Linked DNA regions of Homo sapiens: regions 2, 3 and 4 are each reported to be linked to region 1. The links are microRNA targets in miRTarBase. Many come from high-throughput screens and were not tested one by one. Region 1 holds a microRNA gene; each other region holds the end of a gene's coding sequence.

The links. The annotated mature microRNA hsa-miR-4768-3p reads CCAGGAGAUCCAGAGAGAAU and lies in region 1 at 2,950-2,969, shown strand. An mRNA with a match to its seed (bases 2 to 7 or 8) in the 3' UTR can be bound and repressed. Matches are read on the target gene's strand: a 7mer-m8 pairs with bases 2 to 8, a 7mer-A1 pairs with bases 2 to 7 and ends in A, and an 8mer does both.
Region 2: miRTarBase lists MROH1 as a target of hsa-miR-4768-3p. Seed matches in the 3' UTR shown: 7mer-A1 at 726-732.
Region 3: the mRNA of ULBP3 is a reported target of hsa-miR-4768-3p. Seed matches in the 3' UTR shown: 7mer-m8 at 2,223-2,229 and 8mer at 2,105-2,112.
Region 4: miRTarBase lists MMP17 as a target of hsa-miR-4768-3p. The part of its 3' UTR that is shown has no 7-base or 8-base seed match.

Annotation. Positions count from the first base shown.
Region 1 is chrX:17,422,978-17,427,041 of GRCh38, forward strand. MIR4768 (microRNA 4768) reads left to right here and starts at 2,904; the gene lies at 2,904-2,977. All of the region lies in intron 1 of NHS (NHS actin remodeling regulator), which reads left to right.
Region 2 is chr8:144,261,082-144,265,145 of GRCh38, forward strand. It overlaps MROH1 (maestro heat like repeat family member 1), which reads left to right. Exons shown (of 44, transcript NM_032450.3): 42 at 33-135; 43 at 203-268; 44 at 574-845. The coding sequence ends at 659. BOP1 (BOP1 ribosomal biogenesis factor) reads right to left here. Exons shown (of 16, transcript NM_015201.5): 4 at 3,836-3,990; 5 at 3,633-3,750; 6 at 3,434-3,535; 7 at 3,144-3,356; 8 at 2,900-3,061; 9 at 2,750-2,830; 10 at 2,611-2,680; 11 at 2,397-2,529; 12 at 2,140-2,320; 13 at 1,772-2,060; 14 at 1,507-1,591; 15 at 1,315-1,422; 16 at 964-1,236. The coding sequence ends at 1,083. MIR7112 (microRNA 7112) reads right to left here and starts at 1,656; the gene lies at 1,592-1,656.
Region 3 is chr6:150,060,785-150,064,848 of GRCh38, forward strand. It overlaps ULBP3 (UL16 binding protein 3), which reads right to left. Exons shown (of 5, transcript NM_024518.3): 4 at 3,801-3,929; 5 at 269-2,567. The coding sequence ends at 3,823. Among named protein-coding and RNA genes, the nearest start is that of ULBP3, 6.3 kb to the right of the region's middle.
Region 4 is chr12:131,850,831-131,854,894 of GRCh38, reverse strand. MMP17 (matrix metallopeptidase 17) reads right to left here. Exons shown (of 10, transcript NM_016155.7): 10 at 3,124-3,970. The coding sequence ends at 3,621. Among named protein-coding and RNA genes, the nearest start is that of MMP17, 24 kb to the right of the region's middle. RefSeq lists an enhancer at 3,279-3,448.

The DNA.
Region 1 (4,064 bases):
TAGCAGTCTGAATCTCCAAGTGATTTTTAGACGTTTTGAAAAATCCAAGAAATTCTAAGACCACCACAGTTTGGAACCATGCCTTGAGTAATAGGCCTGGGATAGACATGAAATTCCTACACTGCATTTAATTAGGAGGTTTTGATCAGGGTTCCAACTGGCATTTGCAGCTGATGTTTGATTAAGAGAAAGTCCTGTCTCAAAATATGAGAAAACTTGAATAATAAAAGCACTGTGCCAATGGCTTTTCATGTATTTGTTTAGAACCTGCCTTGGTTCCAGGAAGGATTTAATGTGGATTTCTATCATTGCATGTGCTGTCTTCATCAATGGTTTAAAATATCAACCAGGGTGAAGATATAAGAGAGGAATATCGAATCATTGCTTAGAAGAAGACTTGAGCAGGCATCTCCTCCTCCTCCATCTAAGCTTCAAAAGAGGCCTCCCCTAACCAGACAGTCCAGTGAGATAATGAATTAATTAGAGACTTGGAAGGGTTAGCATGAGAGCCTTGTCTGTCTTGCCTCTGGCCCTCTGTCTGCTCGGCTAGATCCTGGTTAGGAGCTTTTGGCAGTCCTCAGGTTGGGGATGAGATACCTTGGCAGGCTTGAGTGGGCATCAAAGACACCAGGAAGGATCCCAGCCCAGTTTCTGGCAATTCTATCTGTCACTGGGTTTTATGCCTGTGTTCAAAATATTCCATTTCTCCATCTGTAAAATGGAGATAATCCTTCCTCACCTTGCAGGGATGTTGGGAGGATTAATTAGCTAGTGTTCCTCAAGTGCTTTGAAGATGAAAAGGCTTGTGGAAGTGCTAAGTATTAAGGCAAGGCAGCGAATGCCTGCTGGAAGTGCTCTTCCTTTCCTCATCCTCTTGTCAGCAGTTGTGTTTCTCTTGCCTTTTCTGCATATTTCACAGACCAAAGTGCTGGCATGGTAGGTAGGACAATGCATGGATCAGCACAGAACAAAGACAGTAATGCCTTATTTTATGCCTTGCTACTAACTTGGCTTATCAGTTGGCATGACCTCTGAAGATCTTTTTGCTCTGAATGTTTTAATCATCAAGTTCTGGTGGTTATCCAAGGTGATCCTAATCTACTTTGGGGTGGAGGGAGGAAGTGGTGTCAGGAGAGATCAAACCAGGCCACCTTGAGCTGAAAGCTCTGAAGGAGAAGGATTCCTTGAAATGGAGGTAATTTTTGAATTATAATAAGTGAGAAGACTGCAAGGGAGACAAGCTGAGGGACAAATGCTCTGTGCTTTTCTCCTCACTTTCACAAACAGGAGGAGAACTTCCACTGACCTAGCAGTAGTTTGCTCCTCCAGGCTGTCATGTCTTCTGATCATGTCTTTTATGAGGTGAATTTCTCCTCATGAAAGACTAGACTTTAAGGAGAGATTCTGTGCAGGTCCCTACAGTGTGGAGATGGATTGATTGGGCCTACAGATTGCAGCTAATCAATTCATCCTTTGCTTCCCAAAGGTTTATGCATTTGGGTGGAGTTCACAATGAGTGGTCTGGGTGCAGGGCCGTGTGGAGAAGCATGTCCACCGCTCTTGCCCCGGTGGCTTCTTTAGATAATCTTGCAATCTTCACAGGTTCTTTTCTAGGTATGTTATTGTTTGGAATAACTCCCTTGAGTTTGGAAGAAGAAAAGGAATAGTACCAGGTTTACTCAATCATTTGTTAGTTTGCTTGTTATCTTAAAAAATTCTATAAAATTCTTTTGAGAAGTTTCTCTGCTCATTGATCTTGAAAATCTCCTTGCTTTAGAGAATGGATGTGCTCCTCATATGCTAAGGATAAACCAGATTTTGGTAAATCAGGTTATCTTAGGGGTCCCAGGTGAGTTTGCCATTTTAACGATGCTTAGAGTGAATCCTTGTATAAGGGAAAGTATCTTGTATATTCTGTATCCTTTAGGAACTCACGTCTGTTGACTTTATCAGATGTTGGGGTGGTGGTGAGGCTAAAGACCAATAGGCGACATATGGCAGGATCTTCCCTCCAAGTGACCCTCTGGAAAGGGCTATACTTACTTAATTTTGGTGGAGCTCATCATAGGGTCAGGAAACCAGGGAGAAAGCTGAGCAACTGGTATTTATAGATCTTTCTCTTTAAATCAGGTTTGCTCATGATTTGTCTGGTCTTTATTCTTCTCCATGTCTGAAACTGAGTTCCTTGGATTCCCTTCTCTTCAAAGCCCTCTTGGCAACCTTCTGAGGAATGGCAGAGTTCATTCTGATCCACGTCCGGTGAGCGTAGCTCAACCGTGATGGAGCTTGACCTGTCAAATTCACAGAAAAATGTCCGTTACATATTCCAGCTGTTCCTTAAACATGCTCCCTAAGAGCTAGTTCCATTTGTTAGCTGTCAGAACGATGTGGAGGAATTGCTCCAGACCCTTGGATGTCATCAACCACTTTTGTTTATACACCAGTTATTTTCTCTATTAGCAAATCAATGTTTGGCAAAAAGAAAGCACAGGCTAAGAACTTTTCCTGATGAGTTGCTGCCCCAGCCTTGGAACTCTTCTCAGCCAAAAAAAAAAAAAAAAAAAAAAAAAAAAAAAAAAAAAAAAAAAAAAAAAGAAAGAAAGAAAGAAAGAAAGAAATTGAGGAGGAATTCAGTTTTACATGTTTTCCTTCCTGCTTACATGAACAGAGGAGGCCTACCTGAAGCTGAATCCAAGCACTGCCTTTGACGTTGGTAAAGATGGGGCTCTGAGCTCACATATCACCTTGGAAACTGGATCCTGTTACTGCTGGGAAAGGAATGCTTGGTTGCCAAAAGCATTAAGATAGGGAATGTGGATTCCACCTCTCAGTGCTCCTGCCTTGGATCAATTAGGTAGGATACTACCCAGAGATACAGACATGATGGACCAAGTAACTTCTCCAAACTTTGATTCTCTCTGGATCCCATGGATATGGGAACTGTGATGTCCAGGAGATCCAGAGAGAATCAGAGTTTCAGTGAGTGAAACCTAGAGTGTGTGCTGCTAGGATTTTCCTCATAAACCTGGGTGTTTTATTCTTGTGGGCCAGAAAGTTATTTCATTCCTAAACCCGTGATGTAGACTTCTCAGAAATTCCAGTGGTGTGGAGGATCCAGCTTCTATCAGCTCACAAGAGCTGATTGCACATATCTCTCCCCAACTGCTGTTCAGTGGCATCAAGTTGGTAGCTTGAAATCTGCCATGATGAGAGTATTTACACTATAGAAATTGGCAAATATGGCAAATAAGGGTCCCCACCACCCATGCTTGTGAAACATCTTCCAGCACACCAAGGAAATTATCCTAACACGTAACATCACTTATGGGGGCTGTTTAGCTTCAGGGGAGGAAATCCCCTTTGCTCTGATCTCATTGTGTGTACCTGCTTTGCATAGGCAGACTACCCCTTGTTCTCTCATCTATTAAACTCGACCTGAGAGAGAGCTTCATGAGATGGGTTGTGTGACAGGAGATCACTAGGGTAATGAGTCTGTTCCTTTCGCTGCTCAGCTATATGACAGGTTATTTTACCTCTCTAGGCCTCAGCTTCCTCTTCACTATAATAAAAGTAATTTAGATCATTAAATAATTGCTAAGTTTCCTTGTAGCTTCGACATTCTGCAATTTGATGAGTGCTTGGCTGCTGGAAAATGTCATGTGTTTCAAAGGCTTGGGGCACATGCACATCATTCACAGTGACCAGCTGAGCTCTCTCATTTTCTTTCTGGATCTTGGACTCCCAGTAATTCTACTTTTATCTGGACTTCTATCTTCAGCATGAATGAGCAGGGTGCCTCTAAGTGAGAAGCATAATTGATTAGTTCCTTCCATCTGGGGGTGTCAAAGCACTTTCAAGTCAGTAGTCAGTATCCATCATGGTTGCTCTGCAGGGAAGACTGCCTGAGAGTGCCTGTTTTGCAAGGGACATATCACAGTGGTGGACCAAGGACCCAGAATTATTGACTTGTCTTTTAATCAGAAAAGGGGCTACTTCCTGGTCTTAAAGAAGTTCCAGCTTTGAGATTAATCTGCTGTCTATAACCCCAGATCACTTGGCATGCT
Region 2 (4,064 bases), not on the chromosome of region 1:
GGCCAGGCGGCACTGACCAGGCCTCTCCCCAGATGCACCATTTCCCAGACCTGCTGGGCCGTCTCCTGACCACCTGCCTGTTCTACTTCAAGAGCAGCTGGGAGAACGTCCGAGCTGCTGCACCCCTGTTCACCGGTAAGCACCACCCCCTGCCCCACCCCCACGCCGCCCGGCAGCCCCGCCTGATGCCCCCACTTCACAGGGTTCCTGGTGCTGCACTCGGAGCCCAGGCAGCAGCCGCAGGTGGACCTGGACCAGCTCATTGCGGGTGAGCACCCCTCCACGGGGCCCCTCCGCTGGGCCCTGCTGACCCTGTAGGCACCCGCAGGGACTAAGTGATTTTCCTGGATTTCAGGACTTTTTCCCTGTCACTGGTGACCTCATCGTCTCTAGTAATTCACGGAAACTTCTTAACTGTTCCAAAAGAGCTTAAAAAACACTAAAAAAGGAAAAACGATCTTTCCGTTGGCTCCTGAGCCTCCCAGCAGAGGCTGTCAGGAGAGCGTGGCCCACGCGCAGGCATGGGCATGCCGAGGTCACAGCCCGCAGGCAGCCCCCCTCCTCTACCCCCAGCGCTCCAGATCCTGCTGAAGGACCCGGCCCCCGAGGTGCGGACGAGGGCTGCTGAGGCCCTGGGCCGCCTGGTGAAGCTCGCCTAAGGCTCCGGCCAGCACCCCCAGCGAGGAGTATGCACCCAGACCTGTGCCTGAGCTCCAAGACAGGGCCTCCTGAGGACCACAGCCTGGGCACACGACTGGAGGGGCCTGGCCCCAGAACAGGCACTGCTGGGGACCAAACCCAAGCCCTTCAGTGAGGGATGTGCCCAATAAACTCATCTGCTCCCAGCGAGTGACTGACAGGGTGCGATGCTGAGCCTCTTAGGGGATGGGCCAGAGGGTGCCCTGGACTGGCTGTGTTGTCCCCACTGTTTTTGCAAAATTGAGTGAGGGGAAGGCTCGGCGCTGTGGTGGGGGCGGCTTTGTTGGCAACCCCAATTCAAGAAGGTGGGAGCACCAGGCAGCACAGGGTAAAGGCTCTGTTGACTTCAGCACGACCACCCCAGCCCCAGGCAGGCAGAACAGCTAGGTGAAGAGGCGGACAGTCCCGTCTGCCCCCGAGGAGAAGACCCACGGCTGGGTGGGGTGGAAGATGACGTCCAGCACTCCCAGATCTCGGGTCAGCACGTGTCCCTTCAGCACCTTGACGGGCACCAGCAAGGGGTTCTGCAGAAGGTCACTGTGGGGACGAGGAGGGCTCAGGGCACGGCCAGACACCACTGCCCTGGGGAGGGGGCCAGGCAGGGTCAGCACTCACTTGTACACCATGCCATGGCAGACGATGACACTGCCGTCGTCCGAGCCTGACGCAAAGAGTGGGTACCGCGGGTGGAAGGCCACAGCCCGCAGAGCCTTCTTGTGGTGTCTGGGGGGAGGGAACCAGGTTGAAGGCAGGCTCGGGCTGAAGGGAGGGGCTCTGCTGGCCGCCTCCACCCCCAGCTTTCCTCACCTCAGCATCCTGTATGGCTTGGTGGAAAGATCCAGGTCAAACCACACCAGCTTGCTATCGTAGCTCCCACAGATGACGTTGTCACCTAGGGCCAAAGGCTGTGATGCAGGTGTTCCCGCTCTCACCTGCAGGGTGCACTGCCCTGCCCGTCACCTACACCCCTCACCTGCAGGGTGCACTGCCCCTACCCCCACCCCTCACCTGCAGGGTACACCGCCCCCCCCCCCACCCCTCACCTGCAGGGTGCACCGCCCCCACCCCTCACCTGCAGGGTGCACCGCCAGGCTGGACACCCACTTGCAGTTGGGCATCAGCTTCTTGGTGAGCTCCTGGCGCAGCAGGTGGTAGAGGCGGACGCTGCGCTGGGACGCCACCAACAGGAAGGGCCGGGCAGGGTGGAAGGCCACTCGCTGCACCTGTCCGTGGCTGCGGCGGAACGGACTCTGGCTGCGGCGACGGCTCAGCTGGTGAATCAGCACCTGGGTGTGGCCTTGGGTGGCCAGCACCACGGCCAGGTAGTCCCCACGCCCGTGCCAGGTCACCTGCGTCACTGGCTGCAGGAGAGCAAGGCTGGCTGAGTGGCTGAGCCGGGCCCCTCCCGCTGCAGCCTCACCCCCAAGGCGCCCCACGTACCTTCCCGTGGCAGATGCGCAGCCGCAGGCCCACTTGGCGCTCCTCCTCTGAGGCCTCCAGCCAGCGGGCCGGCTGCAAGGGGGGCTCCTCAGGCGGGACGAAGGCGCTCAACAGCTGATCTGTGCTGCCCGCCACCAGCCGGTCCCCCAGAGCTGGGTTCAGCAGCAGCACCGAGTCCTCCCTGTGAGCCAGGCCCAGACACGGCCCCTAAGCACAGTGCCACCCCTGGCTCCCCAGCCCCCAGGGCCTCCACTTACACGGCTGCAGCCACCAGGCAGACAGCGGGGCTGGGGTTCCAGGCCACACTCTTCACCACGCCCCCCACGGGAACAGTCCTCACACAGCGGGCAGTGGCCACCTCCCAGAGCCGCAGGGAGCCGTCGTCAGAGCCTGGATGCGGCAGAGACAGCTCTCAACACCTGGCCATCCCACCTGCCCCCCAGCTCAAGGCTGCCCCCAGCTCGGACCCACCTGAAACCAGCCACTGGCCCCCAGGAGAGACACTGAGGCACCGGACAAGGTCACTGTGGCCCCTGTAGACCTGAGGAGGCGGCGGCAGTGAGGAGTCAGACTGGGAGGGTGCAACCCCAGCCCCCTAGTCTCCACTTACCAGGGCCTGGCACGTGGGGAAGGGCTGCAGGTCCCTCGGCCGAGGCAGCTTGGGGATGAGGTCCTCAGGGTCTACATTCACCTGGGGCAGGAGAGCGCCAGGTCAGCCTTGCCCCCTGTGCCACCCCCCTGGTGTGCCACCCCCACACACCCTCATCTTGCGCTGCCGTGGGCACAGGTACAGGTCAAGGCAGCGCTCGAAGCGTTCCTGGATGAAGCGTCCGTAGGCAGGCACGGCCCGCAGGCTCGGGAACTTGCGTGGCAAAAAGCTCAGCTTCCTCTCGCCTGGCTCCTGCTGTTCCCACGCCAAGCGCTGTGGAGACCAAGACACAGGGGTGGGGAGGGTCACAGGGAAGCATGGGGACAGGGTCCCGGCCCCCAGGATGCAGGCCCACCTCCTCCTCGCTGAGCAGGTATTCAGGGGGTGGGTTGTACGACTCGGCGTGGCCTGGCAGGGCCAGCTTGGGAGCAGGTACGTGCATCTTGTGGCGCCCGAGCACGGCGTTGGGGTCCTCCTGGGCCCACAGGTCATAGAAGCTGGGGGTGGGGTCTCGGGGCCGGCGAGGCTGGATCCAGCCCATCTTGATGGCGTGCACCATGCGAGAGACCTGCATAGACAGCCGGGTCAGGACGGGCAGTGCGGGGCGGTCAGCCCAGGCCAAGCCCCAGGGGCTGTGTGCCCCACCTTCTCCTTCTCCACCAGGGAGGGGATGAAGCTGCGCTTGTCGGCCGGGCGGTTGGTCACCGGGTGGATCATGACGTCCCCGCTGAAGAAGTCGACAGCCGGCTGGGGGAGAAGATGTGGGCGTGTGGGCCAGAGTGGCTGAGGCCCTGCTGGTGCCTCCAGGACCCCCGCCGCCCAGGGGCCAGCCCCTGCCACCTACCTCATAGGGGTTGAAGCCCACATCCCCAAACTGGCCACTCTGCAGCCGCCGCACCAGGGCCACCTGCTCATCCGTCAGTCTCAGGTCCCGCCCTGTCATCGGGTCCTGCACGGTGCGCCTGGAGACCGCCAGTCAGACCCCGCCAGCCCTGCCCCACCCCTCGGGCCCACCCCGGCTGCTGGCCCCACCCCACCAGCCCTCACCAGTAGTCAGGATCGTCCATCTTGTCCAGGAACTGGTCCAGCTCATCCCGGGTCCGCAGGGGCTTGTAGATGCGCCTGCCATCCAGGTCGTAGCCCACGTGGGGGAAGTCATCGTACCACTCCAAGGGCACGTTGCCCACCGTGTTCCGGATGTCCTGCAGCCGGGGGCCACCATGTCGGCATCTGATCCTACAAGGCCCACCCCCGCTTCGGGCCGCCCAGGGGAGCA
Region 3 (4,064 bases), not on the chromosome of region 1:
CACCTCCACAACCTGCCCTGTGTCCTCCTCTCTCCTGAGGCTGAATGCAGCTCTTGTGCCTTCAGTGCCAAGAATGCCACAGTCCCAGACCAGAGGAAGAGCTGATGTGGACGGTGGAAAAGGAGGGGGTGGGTGTAGAAGGAGAAGGCTGACAGCAAGGATTTCCTGAGGATAAACAAAAAAAATGTCACTTGAAACTGGCAAAAAAAAAAAAAAAAAAAAAAAAAAGTAAGGGTATAAAGAACAAGATGGAAATGGAAATCTTGTATAATTTCATTATGCAGTGTTTAATTTTAGGGTTTGGCACTTTCACGTATAACTTTTATACAATTATCATCATATACAACTTACGATTATTTTAAATGACTAGAGTTTAGTTTTTGATCTGGGTTAGCGTTCATAGTGCAAAGTTCTCTCGTTCCACTCAGTTAACCCCATTTTTTGGAGGGCTCTATGTCATTTTATTTTACTTACGAATCTTTAATTTTAACCTTTATTATAGATTAAAGGGTACACATACAGGTTTGTTACATGGGTAGATTTTGGAAGGCTGAGGCTTGGTGTCCCAATGATCTCATCACTCAAACAGTAAGCATGGTACCCAACAGGTGGTTTTTCAGCCCAGGTGCCCCTCCTGTCTCACCTGTCTAGTAATCTCCAGTGCCTCTGGTTCATGTGAATTCAATGTGTAGCTGCCACTTTCCAATGGGAACATGCAGTATGTAGTTTTCTGTTCTTGCATTAGGTTGCTTAGGATAATAGCCTCTAGTTCCATCCATGTTGCTGAAAAGGACATGATTTTGCTGTGTTTGGTGGCTGCATAGATTTCCATGGTGTTTATGTACCACATTTTTTTCATTCAATTCAGTGTTGCTGGGCACTTAGGTTGATTCTGTGTCCTTGCTAGTAAGAATAGCACTGTAATGAACATATTGGTGCAGGTGTCTTTTGGATAAAATGAATTCTTTTCCTGTGGATATATCCCGAGTAGTGGGATTGCAGGCTTGAATGGTAGTTCTATTTTAAGTTCTTGGAGAAATCTCCAAACTGCTTTCCATAGCGGCTGAACAAGTTTGCTTTCCCACCAACAGTGTCTGTTTCTTTTCCTCTGCAGCCTCACCACCATCTCCAACTTTGTGACTGGTAAGAGATGGTAACTCATTGCAGTTTTGATTTGCACTTATCTGATGATTAGTGATATTGAGCATTTTTTCACGTTTGTTGGCCACTTGTATGTCTTCTTTTGAAAAGTGTCTGTTCATGTCTTTGCACATTTTTTAATTGGGTTTTTTTTTCTTGCTTGTCTAATTGTTTAAGTACTTTGTAGATTCTGGATATTGGACCTTTGTCAGATGCAGAGTTTGCAAATAGTTTCCCCATTCTACACGCTGTCTGTTTACCGTGTTGCTAGTTTCTTTTTCTGTGCAGAAGCTCTTTAGTTTAATGAGGTCCCATTTGTCAATTTTTGTTTTTGTTACAATTGTTTTTAGTGTCTTCTTCATGAAATCTTTGCCAGGCCCTATGTCCACATTGGTATTTCTTAGCTTATATTCCAGGATTTTCACAGTTTTATTACCTGCGCAACATAGGAAGACCCAATCTCTACCTAAATATAAAACAATTTGCCAGGCATGGTGGCATGCGCCTGTAGTCCCAGCTACTCTAGAGGCTGAGTCTAGAGGATCACTTGAGCCCAGGAGTTGGAGATTACAGTGAGTGATGACTATGCCACTTCACTCCAATATGGTTGACAGAATGAGAAAATGTAAAAAAACTATAATGATAAAAAGGATTAATACAATTCTTGGTCAGTGCATGGAAAGGATCCCTGAGGTCTGAAGTCCTGCATGCTATTTTACTAGCAATACCGTTTCGAAGAATAAGGTCATGCTTCAGAGAAATGTCTGCTTTTCCACAATCAAAGAAGTAGAAAGAAAATGCCTTTTGCTGGGATTTCTTGTTCAGTTAAAACTTGTGCAGGAATTCCATCCATTAGCACCGAGAGAAAGTGGCAGAAGGTGTTAAGAAAAATGGCTGGCCGGGCGCGGTGGCTCACGCCTGTAATCCCAGCACTCTGGGAGGCCGAGGCAGGTGGATCATGAGGTCAGGAGATCGAGACCATCCTGGCTAACAAGGTGAAACCCTGTCTCTACTAAAAATACAAAAAATTAGCCGGGCGCGGTGGCGGGTGCCTGTAGTCCCAGCTACTCGGGAGGCTGAGGCAGGAGAATGGCGTGAACCCGGGAAGCGGAGCTTGCAGTGAGCCGAGATTGCGCCACTGCAGTCCGCAGTCCGGCCTGGGCGACAGAGCGAGACTCCGTCTCAAAAAAAAAAAAAAACAAAAAAAAAAAAAGAAAAATGGCTGCTGGGATCATGAGCGAAGGTAATGAGTGGCCTGAGATGTTGAGCCGACAATGTCCTCATCATCTGCTGGGGGCCTCTGGGCTTGCTAAGGCTTGAACTCCTGCTTTCCAGAAAGGCACAGTGGTGAGTAGACAGGCGGCCTCCCTGAAGGGAGAGCAGGAACCAGACCAGGCTAACAGAGGCTTCTTGATATCACCTTCCACCTTGAGGAAAGATGAAGCATTGGTTTAAGTGGCTGAGAAAAACCTGGGTCTGTTCTCCTGGGTGATCCTTCCCAGGCCCTCCCCATTTCAGAGCTTCTCCCCCAGATAAGGAACATGTTTTTCCCTCCAACCCTACCCCTGGCTGTGCAGCCTTTCCCAACCTCCACCCTCCTTCACCACACCACAGAGGCAGCCCAGGTCCTGTTACAGCCCATAGGGGCTCAGACCTGAGGCTGGTAATGAGGGGTCTGCACCCTCACTCAGGGCCTGCTCCTCCCTTTCATAGAAGGGTCTAGAGGACCTGGGGGAGCCCTGTCCAAAGAGAGGTCTCTGGATCCATGTTCCCTGGCCTTGGGTGGGTTTGTAGGCAAACCTTCTTTCTCCTTCGCTCTCAGCCTCTCCTCACCCTGGGAGCTGCACCCATAGCTCTGAATGGGACTGTCCCTGCCCTGCCCCATTCATTCCTGGCCAAGCTCAGTGGTGACCACGGACCTCTAGCAGCAGCTCAGCTGCCCTAGCTGAGTCCACTCTGCTCCAGGCAGGGCCATCAGCTGGCTCAGGATCTGGAGTGTGCACGAGGCAGAATGGCAGTGGCATCGTCCCAGGGCCTAGCCAGGAATCCCATGGGTCCAAGGGGCTCGGCCATTTCCTAAACCTCATCCTGGACACGCTCTACTCTTCACCTTCCACCTTAACTGCTGGGACTCAAGGTGCTCTCTCTGGGAATGCAGCCTTAGGAACTGGGTGGGCCAAGGCCCTCACAGCCCCCTCGTCCTGGGATTCCCCCAGGTTTCTCTCTTCTTAGCCTCCTCCAGGGACACCCCTTCCCTTGACATCCTTGGTGAAGTGGCCATGCTACTCCTCTCCTACTGTGCAGACTGCCCATGCCTGAGTTCCTGCTGCCTGCAGGCCACACACCACTACCCTTCCCAGATAGAAACCTGCTGTGAAATAGGCCTGAACTGTCTAAACCCTCTTGAACTCAACCGGCCCTGAGCCTTGATATGGGTCCCTCCCTTTCCCTCTGGCCCTGATGGTGAGAATCCATCAGAACTCAAGGTTGAGCTGCCCAGGTCATTGCAAACAGGCGACACCAGGTCTCATTCACCTGTCTCATGTCAGAACGAGAAGGTCCCGGCCATGGGGAGAGGTGGGACTCTGGAAATTCTCCTTTCCCTTCCTCCCACCTCACCCATCTGTCTCTCGTTCCCCTCACAGTTTTGCCCACAGTACCTGTCACTCTAAATGACTCTTCTCAGATGCCAGGGAGGATGAAGCAGAGGATGATGAGGAAGCTCCAGGGACTGAGGGTGGTGGCTATGGCTTTGGGTTGAGCTAAGCCTGGGGCCATGGTGGGTGGTGCTGAAAGGGAAACACAAAAGTGACAACTCTTGTCCACGCTCCAAATCTGAGGAGATGGCTCCTTAGCTCCTGCTACCCCAGGTCATCCGGGAAGGCAGAGGATTTGTCTCCCCTGCTGTGGGGCAGCCGCTGTGA
Region 4 (4,064 bases), not on the chromosome of region 1:
AGCCTGTCACGGCAAGCTGAGCTAAGACACCGTGCCTCAGTTTCCCTCCCTGTAACACGGCAGCTGGAGAGGGTGTGTCCTGGCCTCAGAGGTCACCCATGTGGAAGCCGCATGGTCTACAGCAGCCTGTCACGGCAAGCTGAGCTAAGACACCGTGCCTCAGTTTCCCTTCCTGTATCATGGGAGCTGGAGAGGGTGTGTCCTGGCCTCGGAGGTCTCCCATGCAGAGGCGTTGTATAGCACCCATGGGGCTGTGTGTTTTTGGTCAAAAGCCTGGGTCACGCTAAGGGCAGCCAGTGCCTTGGCCCGGCCGTGTGGCTCAAGAGAGACCCTGGGCCTCCAGGCTGACCTCCCTGGGGTGGAAGGAAGAAGGGAAGAGGTCCTTGCCCCTCACTGGGGTGGCGTGGGTCCTCTGACCTCCTTCGGAGGGTTTTGACTGTGGCTGTGGGCTGGCGATGCCCTGCCTCCTGGGCCTGGGGGCACAGCTTCTCCAAGTTGGGCCAGCACAGCCTGAGGTATAAGCAGTGACTCTGAAAATCCAGAACGTCACGTGAAGTCTCCAGGTGTTTAGATGGTGACTCAGGCGAAGATGGAAAACTGCCTGCTGAAGACACAGAACCGAGGTCCCATCACGAGGAAGGTGCAGGCGGACAGGCCGGGGGCATGGACCACAGAAGGACGGGCCGGCAGCCCTCATAGGTGCGAGGTCACAGGGGTCGGGGAAGGCCCGGGAGCTGTGCCGGGCCAAAGAAGGCTGCCCTGGGTGAGGTCTGTCCCTGCAGCATCCTCTGATCTGAGATCCACTGGCTGCGTGTCTTTCCCAACTCTGACCTTGGGAGGACACCTGCGTTCCAGGAGACACAGAAGCGAGCTCAGGGTGGTCAGCGCCTCCCAAAGGATGCAGAGGACTCTCATGCTGCGGGTGCAGCTTTCTATGAACATGAGATCCTTTCCACAAAACAACACGCCCTGCCCGCGTGTTCCTCATCCGAGACGCGCAGGACCAGAAAAGTGTTTTGGAGCTCAGATTGTTTGGAGTTTGGACACTATATTTGCATTATACTTACAGGTTGAGCATTTTTCTCTGCTTTTCTTTTTTCAAATACTGCCACTTGGCCAGGTGTGTTGGCTCATGCCTGTAATCCTAGCCTCACCTCAGGGAGGCTGAGGCGGGTGGATCACCTGAGGTCAGGAGTTCGAGACCAGCCTGACCAACATGCTGAAACCCTGTCTTTACTAAAAATACAAAAATTAGCCAGGCGTGGTGGTGCCTGCCTGTAATCCCAGCTACTCGGGAGGCTGAGGCAGGAGAATCACTTGAATCTGGGTGGCGGAGGTTGCAGTGAGCTGAGATCTCACCACTGCACTCCAGCCTGGGCGACAGGCTCTGTCTCAAAAAAAAAAAAAAAAAAAAAAAAAGTGAAATCCCAAATGTTCTGTGTGCACCCCGAGCCCATCAGTGCTCAAAAGGTCTTGGGTTTTGGGGATTTCCGACTTTGAATGTGGGGTCAGGGTAGCCTCAGCTGCATGTGCATATCAAAAGGTGGGGGCTCATGAAATGCGTCATGGGCTGGCGGGGCTCCAGGCCCTGCCCCAGGACCCAGCACGGCCACCCCACTGCCAGAGGGAGGTGGGCTGCAGCATGGAGAGGCAAGTTCAGAGCAGCCCCCCTGCCCCGCCTACGGTTCACCTCTTCACCAGAGATAGGACCGGCAGAAGAGGCTTATGACGGAGAGTTTGGACTTCAAAACCGCAGTGAGCCCTGCCAACGTGAGAGCCCGACTCAGCAGACAAGGCCCACAGCCGGCTTTGCACTGGGGCACGACCCAGGACGTGGGGACCACGGGGCTGGGCCAGCTGCACGGGGGAATTCACCCCACAGGCTGCTGGGCAACAAAGCGTGATGAGGAAACACCACTTGGTGCAGGGCAGAGCCAGTGTCCCCGACAGACAGGAGGGAGGTCGGTCTTTCCACAGACTGGTCTGACAGGCAGGGACTCCTCCTGCTCCAGGGAGCAGATGGTGAACAGGCGGGGGACAGAGGACACGGCTGGACTCCATGAGGATGTGGCCTCTCTTCACGGGGAGGTGGCCCGGCTCCATGAGGCCTGGCCTGGGGCCTGCCTGCCCGGCCCTGGCAGCCTCATCCTGGGATGGGTGCCATCCCTGGGATGGGACAAGGGGGCTGTGGGCTTTGGCTCCTGGGTGCCAGGAAGCCTCATCTGCACCCTGGGTGGCCCCAGCCGCTCCCTATGCTGGGCCTGTGGTCAGGAACTTCCTGCTATGTGGGAGTGAATCCCCCACAGTCCAACGGCCACCTCCTCATCCTCACTGAGTCACGTTTGAGGGGGCACCCGGGCCCTCCACAGCCCAGGGCAGATGCTGGTGAGCCAGAGCCTGAGGCCCCGAACCTGTGGCCCGGGGTGCGTCTGTGCCGCAGAGACCAGAGGACTGTGCACCAGCGGGAGGACTGGGCCCTGCAGAGTGGCATCGGCTGCACCCTCTGAACAAGAGGGTACTGCAGGACAGACGCGTCACTCGCCGGCCAGAGTGGGGGCAGGCTGAGGGACTCCGCTGTGGATCTGGAGGCTGGGAGCAAAGGGAGCAAGTGACAGAGTGGCTGGAGCTAGAATCAGCCCCTTGCAGGGAGCACCCTCCCTCCCTCTTGCGCAGGGAGCACCTACCCTCCCTCTTGGGCGCACCCAGGTCCCGGTGCTCGGCCGGGCATCATGGTCTAGTGCTGCGGGGCAGACAGCGTCCCAAGTGGCTCACCCAACAACTGATGCCTTTCCTCGGGCACCTCCCACACTCAGATCTCACTGGGCCAGCTGGCGCCCCGCCCGCCCGTGATGCCCCTGCCTGTAGCACTGAGGCTCATCCCCCGCTGGGCCTCAACTCTCCCATCTGTGACAGGGGCGTGGGGACTCCTCGGGGCACGAGGACTGGAAGAGACAGCGCGGGACGGGCTGATGAACAAGGAGGAATGCGACTGCCGAGACCTCCTGGGAAGCCCCCACCCCAAGTGCAGGTGCGTGGGCCCCTGGTCAGGGTCAAGCCCCTTGAGGCCCGAGGGTACCCACTCCCATGGCCCTGGAGCACCAGGGAGCCCAGCCGAGCCGCTAGAAAGCAGGGAGAGGTCATGTTGGTCTGGAACGCGTCACAGGGGGGACGTGCCGCGGCACCATGTGGGGGGCTCGTCTGTGGGGAGGGCTGCCCCACTGGGGACCTGGGGACGGAGGCCCTGTGGGCCGGCGGGAGCACCAGGCAGCAGTGTGGGTGGGGTTGGTGGCGCCGGCACAGAGAGGGGTGGGCCCCCAGCCCGAGATGCTCCCTCCAGGGCCGGAGGAGGCTGGCGGCGGTGCGGCCTGACTGGGCACCCTTCTGGAGCGGCCACCCCTCGGCTCGTCAGTCAACACAGTCCCTCACTAGGGGACAGCTCCGTCCTTGCCACCTGAGCCTGCCCAGCCCTGGCGGACAGTGCCCTCTGCTGGCCTTCCGGTGCCAGGGTGGCCCGTCCTCATCCCGCGCCAGCACCTCCCCCAGGGACTCCGGCACAGTCCTTGCCCTCTGTGGCCAGGCTGTCCCACCGCCTCTGTCCTCTCATGGGCTCGCGCTGTGTGTCATAGCGTCAGGGCCTGGGCCGCTGTCCACAGGGCGCCTGGTGACAGTGGCGGCAGCAGCAGCAGCATGGTGGCAGCCACCAGTGGGCCTGGGGCCCCCGGGGGAGAGGATGCCCCAGAGGTGCATGAGCAGACCTCGTAACCGTCCTCCGAGCGGCTCTGGTCATGTTGTCCTGGAGGGGCGCGGGGCCCCTCTGCCGCGTCCACGCCCGCAGCCACAGATCCATCGGCCTGTGAGTCTCCACACACCAGCCAGTCCCGGGCCGTGGACTGTGGGTACCCGGGTGCCACCTCCAGCTCGCCATCCAGCACTTTCCAGTACTCCTGGCCACGGAAGAAGTAGGAGGCACCTGAGAAGAGGAGGGAGAGCTGAGCTCAGGGGAGGGCTGCAGCAGGAGGGGCTCGAGCCGGACAGCGAGGAGGGAGCGTTGGGCTCAGGGAGGG